Homo sapiens: one gene and its partner. The protein of the gene in region 1 interacts with the protein of each later gene in a pairwise test. Each region holds a gene or a part of one and is shown in the gene's direction. Other genes may lie near its edges.

Region 1 (2,906 bases):
CACAATTTAAAAGCCTGACAGCATGAAATGTTAGCAAGGATGTGAAGCAGCTAGATTCATAAACTTGCTAGTCATGTAAAATAGTACCACTACTTTGGAAAACTGGAACTTTTTAACGTTAAATGTGTAACTCTTCTATTACTCAGCAGTTCCACTCCTAAGTATTAAATATTTACCAAAAGAAACGAAAATATGCCTATAAAGCCTTCTATTAGAATTAACTGTGCTGTTATTCATTGCAGCATTGTTTTGTTCGTTGTGTATCATTGTTTTTTTAATAGTAAGAGACTGAAAACAGCCTCAATGTCCCATTACTAGGAGACCATTTAATTTATAGTCATTGCTATACTATCTAGCTGTAGAAAAATGAGAAGGATCTTTATGTATTGATATGTTTCTGAAATGTATTATTATGAAATGTAAAAAGCAGGATACAATCCAGTATACATATATATTTTTAAAGTGTGTATAGATGTGGATAGAATATCTCTAAAGGTATATTTAAAAAAATGTTTGGTGTCAGTTGCCCTTGAGAAGGGTTAAGATAAAGAAGATAAAGGGTGAGATAAAAAAAGAGGGACTTTCCACAGTTTACCCTTTTGTACTTTTTGAATTTTCTATCATGAATGCAATGCTATACACAATATAATTTTTTTAAAAAAATCCTATACTTAGAAATGCAGATTTGAGATCAGCAAAATCAGAAATTTAAGAAGATGTGGCATTCTAAGCAGAGAGGTCTAAAACTGCTGATAAGAACACTTTGAATAATGTGAACCTGACGTGCCCACCTGATTTATGGGATAATCTAAAACTATTATTCCCAAATACTAAACTGGCTACATCAGAATCACCTGGGGAGCTTTGTCAAAATACCTGGCCTCTAGTTCTGAGATTTTATTATTGTTCATTAGACCAGTGCTAGGGCATGAATGTTTTGTGTTTATCTTTTTTTTTTTTTAACTTTTATTTTAGGTTTAGGGATACACATGAAGGTTTGTTCCATAGGTAAACATGTGTCACAGGGATTTGTTGTACATATTATTTCATCACCCAGGTGTGAAGCCCAGTACTCAATAGTTATCTTTTCTGCTCCTTTTCCTTCTCCCACCCTCCCCTCTCAAATAGACTCCAATGTCTATTGTTTCCTTCTTTGTGTTCATAAGTTCTTATCATTACCTCCCACTTATAAGTGAGAACATGCGGTAGTTGATTTTCTGTTTCTGCATTAGTTTGCTAAGGATAATGGCCTCCAGCTCCAATGTTTTGTATTTAAAAGCCTCCAAGTGACTCCTGGCTTAGCCAGCTGTGGAAACCACTGGACTAAAACAAGCATGTCCTTACAAGCTTCCATTCGTTCCATGTTTTGGTCTTTTTTGGTTGAAGTTGTTTAGGAAGTACTGTGTTTGAGTTTATTCATTTCTTTATGCATTCAGAAAACATTGGTCACCTGTTATACATTATACGCCTATTACACATGAGGTTTTTAATGTATTTAGACCTGACAATAGGAGTGTCACTTAGATGTGATCTCAGTGTTGTGGGTAACTTTGTTTGTCTTTAATGAGAAATCTGGAACATAGATGATGATTTTTTCCTTTGAATTAACTTAATGTGTTCTCTTCCCTACAGATTTCAGAACTTATATTTCCACCTCTTCCAATGTGGCACCCTTTGCCCAGAAAAAAGCCAGGAATGTATCGAGGGAATGGCCATCAGAATCACTATCCTCCTCCTGTTCCATTTGGTTATCCAAATCAGGGAAGAAAAAATAAACCATATCGCCCAATTCCAGTGACATGGGTACCTCCTCCTGGAATGCATTGTGACCGGAATCACTGGATTAATCCTCACATGTTAGCACCTCACTAACTTCGTTTTTGATTGTGTTGGTGTCATGTTGAGAAAAAGGTAGAATAAACCTTACTACACATTAAAAGTTAAAAGTTCTTACTAATAGTAGTGAAGTTAGATGGGCCAAACCATCAAACTTATTTTTATAGAAGTTATTGAGAATAATCTTTCTTAAAAAATATATGCACTTTAGATATTGATATAGTTTGAGAAATTTTATTAAAGTTAGTCAAGTGCCTAAGTTTTTAATATTGGACTTGAGTATTTATATATTGTGCATCAACTCTGTTGGATACGAGAACACTGTAGAAGTGGACGATTTGTTCTAGCACCTTTGAGAATTTACTTTATGGAGCGTATGTAAGTTATTTATATACAAGGAAATCTATTTTATGTCGTTGTTTAAGAGAATTGTGTGAAATCATGTAGTTGCAAATAAAAAATAGTTTGAGGCATGACAACGCGTGTTTCTGTTGTGTGCATAAAAGGGGAAAAGAACGGGTATTTCCCTTCAATGTATTTAACTAAATAGCAAAAACATTAAACAGAACGTAAGAATTTTAAAATTTCCTTTGAAAAATCAACTATTAACCATACTTTTCCTAAAAGACCACATATCAGAATATGCATATGAAAAGTTAAAAATTTGTTAGTGGTAGTTATTGAAAATATAATAAAACATCTTTTAACTATCAGTGTCACTATACATAGGGTTTTTTAACAAAGAATTTGGCTCGTACTAATTTTGACATGACATCTGACTTACATGTCTAATGCCATTGCATAAAGTAGATGTGTTCTTACAGCTGCTCTAATCTCTGTGCCTTGTGCTTTTTTTAAAAAACATTTAAGTCTTTACTAGAGGCCTAAAATAAAGTCAAATAATACAATACTTCAGATTCTTCAGTAGTCCATATTTATACAACTGTAATTCCATCAGTCTTGTAAGGGTACTTGAACTACAAAAAGAAAAAAAGAGATATCTCTATAAGAGTTTTGATTTTTCTCCAAAGGTAAATTTTTAAAAACTAAGATCAGCAATACTTTTTCCA
Region 2 (3,657 bases), on another chromosome or scaffold:
TACAGGGGTGGGAGAAAGAATGCTGGAAAGGGCAGCCCTGAAGTGTTTTATCCTAAGACCATCTAAACGTGAAGGAAGTCCATTCCAGCTAGTGAGGAGGTGCCTAACACAGTGGTTTCAAGCCTGACTGACCACAGAGTTACCTTGGTAGCATATTAAAGTCCTCATTCCTACATCTCACCCTAGAGCACCTGTTTTCAACCTTAGATGCACAGTAGAATTAACTGAGAAACTTTTAAAGCCATCATTATCCAGGCCCAAATGCAGTATTGTTAAATCAGAATTTCTGGGGATGTTGCTCAGGCATCTTTTTTAAATTTAATTCCCTGGGTATACCAAGATTGAAACTTGACACTCTATATACTGAATCAAAAGCTCCATGGGCAAGGTGTAGGAATCTGTATTTTTTAATTACCATCTCCCAAATCTACTTAGTTTGTGGAGCAGCGTTTGAAATGGACTTGTGACAGGTATGGATGAAGTGAACAAGAGACAGTAGAAATCAGGCGTGGTGGGGAATTGAAAGAAATGGCAGTGGCAGTGGTTCCAGTTAGAGATTCTCAAGAGGCTCAAGATGGAGCCCTCAGAGACTTTCAGTGTTTGGGTCTTGGCCTTGCTGCTGTGGAGAGGTGATGCAAATCCATGGAGTCAAACAGAATAAAGAATTTGAAGTAATGTATGGATATGAAGGGCTGATGATGTGAATATTAAATTTACTGAGGTTGATGGATTGGAGTGGAATATTATAAATTAGTTACTGATGTATTACACATGTTTAAAAAAGTGGTGAATGAGAAAGAAGAAAATGCTTAGAGGTGGGGCAGAAATAACAGTGGCAGCGAGGATGAATTTGACTGGCTACTTCTACACCTAATCAGGTGAACAGAAAAGAGAGGTTCTACATGGGGTAGAACCCTCTGGATAGGGTACCAGTACATTGGGTTCAAGAAAGAGCTAGATTTGACTTAGGTCAGAGAGGTGAAGAGAAATGGGAGGAATTTAGTTGAGAATTTTAAAGGGATGTTAGCCTATAATGGAAGACAAGGGGAAGAGTTTGAGGGTGAGCATAAGGTGTGTCGAGAGAATTTGATGGAAAGTTTAGTAACAAGAATGAGAAGTTGGCTTATCAGTTGTGTATAAATGGGGTTGATGGAGTCCCTGGGACAAAATGTAACTACCAATTATTGAACATCTGTTATGTTTAGCTTTGTGCTAGGTGCTACAAAAAATGCAAAAAGACAAGGTTTTAAAAAATGGTCTCTGCCTCAGGGTATGCAGGGTTAACACATGAAAAGCAAAGCAATATGTAAAAACCACAATGAGCCATAGAAACAATTTGTACTATCAGAGATGAGAGAAAGGAGATCACTGTGTGCAGAACTGTGAAGAAAGGCCTTGAAGTAAAGGTAATTATTTAAGCTGGCTGGCCATTGAAAAATGATAGGATTTGGATAGGCAGAAGAAAGTGGGCAAAGTAATCCAGTGACGAAAACAGCATGAGCAAGGCTTAAAAGGAAAAATTAGTGAGTAATAAAGCGAGCCCAGTGGAAGCATGCTGGGAACTTGTGGGAGGTGAGAAAGATTGCATGGGGGCTGGAGCCAGATCACTAGGCAGAAAAGCTTAGACAGTTTTTTTTTCCCCCTGCGGTTAGTGGGAAGCTATTGCAATTTCTGAAACAGAGGAACAACATAATGAAATCAGTGGTAGTGTATAGTTAAACTAGAGGAGGGAGAAAGTGAAGAAAAGAGCTTTGTAGCTCATGCCTGAGGCAATGAGTGCATCCACTAAGGTGGTGGCCACAGGACAGAGTGTAAGGGATGGGAGCATACACACCATGTGGGACCTAACTAGACAGCAGAAATGAAAGAGAAGAAAGATTAATAAAGGAAAAGGACTCAGGTTTCCAGATGAGGTCAATAGCATTCCAAATTAGAGAAAGTGTGTGTGTGTGTGTGTGTGTGTGTGTGTGTGTGTGTACTTAACAACAATATGCCCAGCTAGGTATTTGGAACAATCTTGTATGAAAAATGTTGTGCTCTTTGTTCATTATGTTCTAAACAAGAGGTGAGATGGGAAAGAATGAATGCTATGGTGATGATGTTTAAGTAATTGAATAAACTACAGATATTACAAATATACAAAATAAGTGTTTATAACAATAATAGCTACTTATTGAGTGCCTACTCTGTGCTAAGCATTTGCCATGTATTCTTTTATTTAGTTAAATAATGCAACCAAAAGCAATCACAACAACCCTGTGAGGAAGATATTTTTCCACTTCACAGAAAAAGAATCTGAGAGTCAGGTTATGTGTACCTTGCTAAGGAGTAAAATGGCTAGTCAGGGACAGTGGTTGCTTTATAACAGAGATGTTTCCGACTCATGTTCTTTGCCCAATTCTGAACACTCGACATTTGCGGTCATAGGTAATAGGGACCATGTGGTACAAAGAAGCTGCACCTATGGCAGTATTTCTAGTTTGAAAAAGAGCATGTTGTCCAGTAACAAATTTGTTCAGATATTTGTTACTAGAGATAGAACAATCATGGGAAAGATATGTTCTAGGATATCTATTTGCTTTTTTATGGTATGAATAGATCATTAAATTATATGTAAAATCAATCTGATTGAAGCAAAATAGTCCAAGAGACTTAATACATAAAAAGGGAGGGCTATGGCTTTATAAATACATACCCAGCATGTCTCTAAGTTTGAGTGGGTTGTAAAGTCTCTTTGTCAACTTTTTTTTTAAACCACAAAGCCGTAAAGTCTCTTTGTCAACTTTTTTTTTTAAACCACAAAGCCATAATGTAGTGCTTGCTTATTTTCCCCTTCATGAATAACCCATTAGGACACAAATAATTTATAACTATATTTAACAATTGGAGAAAAGCGGTCATTATAAATTGTGAGCCAGAGAACCTCCAAAAAAGTCAAGTACGATTCTGCTTTGCTGTTTATAACTCTCCATCTATAAAATGGCAAAAATAATAATTGAACCTACTGCATAAGGTAGAAATGAAGTCTAAATTAACACACATAAAACATTTAGAAAAAAACCTTGTACAAAGCACTCAGTGTTAGATGAGATTATTAAAGTCGTGTGTCACATAACAATGTTCTAGTCAATGACAGATCACATAATCTGAAGGCAGTCTAATGCCTTTTCTGTTTAGATATGTTTAGATGCATACTTAGTGTTACAGTTGTCTACAGTATTCAGCATGGTAACATGCTCTATAGGTGTGTGTATCATGTGAGCAATAGGCTATATCATATAACCTAGGTGTGTAGTAAGCTGTACTATCTAGATTTGTATAAGTACACTCTGTGATGTTTGCACAGCTACAAAGTTGCCTAATGAAGCATTTCTCAGAAAATATCCTCATTGTTAAGTGACACATGATTGTGTTTATAAAGCAACATCTGTAGCTGAAAAGCTGTTTGTAAGCCAGCCAGCCCTTTCTCCTCTACTCCTGTCCTGTGGATTTGGTACTTTCCTTAACAGCCTTCTATATCAAGCCTCAGGCCCTGTATGTATTGCCTTTGCCTTTATAAACCTCCACCGTCCCCCTCACCTCCGAGTTATTATCCTTCCCACCACCCCACCACTCCCCAGAATTAAGGGATGTCATGCACTCTCTGAACTCTTTGGG

The links. Proteins that work in one complex are often made in the same cells at the same time.
Region 2: the proteins of BTG3 (region 1) and HECTD2 interact in a two-hybrid assay, tested with the Homo sapiens proteins (one large-scale study listed by BioGRID and IntAct).

Annotation. Positions count from the first base shown.
Region 1 is NC_000021.9:17,593,059-17,595,964, reverse strand, and holds the end of BTG3 (protein BTG3), read left to right. Parts: intron 1-1,632; coding exon 1,633-1,872; 3' UTR 1,873-2,312; downstream 2,313-2,906. UniProt on the Homo sapiens protein: Overexpression impairs serum-induced cell cycle progression from the G0/G1 to S phase.
Region 2 is NC_000010.11:91,413,255-91,416,911, forward strand, and holds part of HECTD2 (probable E3 ubiquitin-protein ligase HECTD2), read left to right. Parts: intron 1-3,657.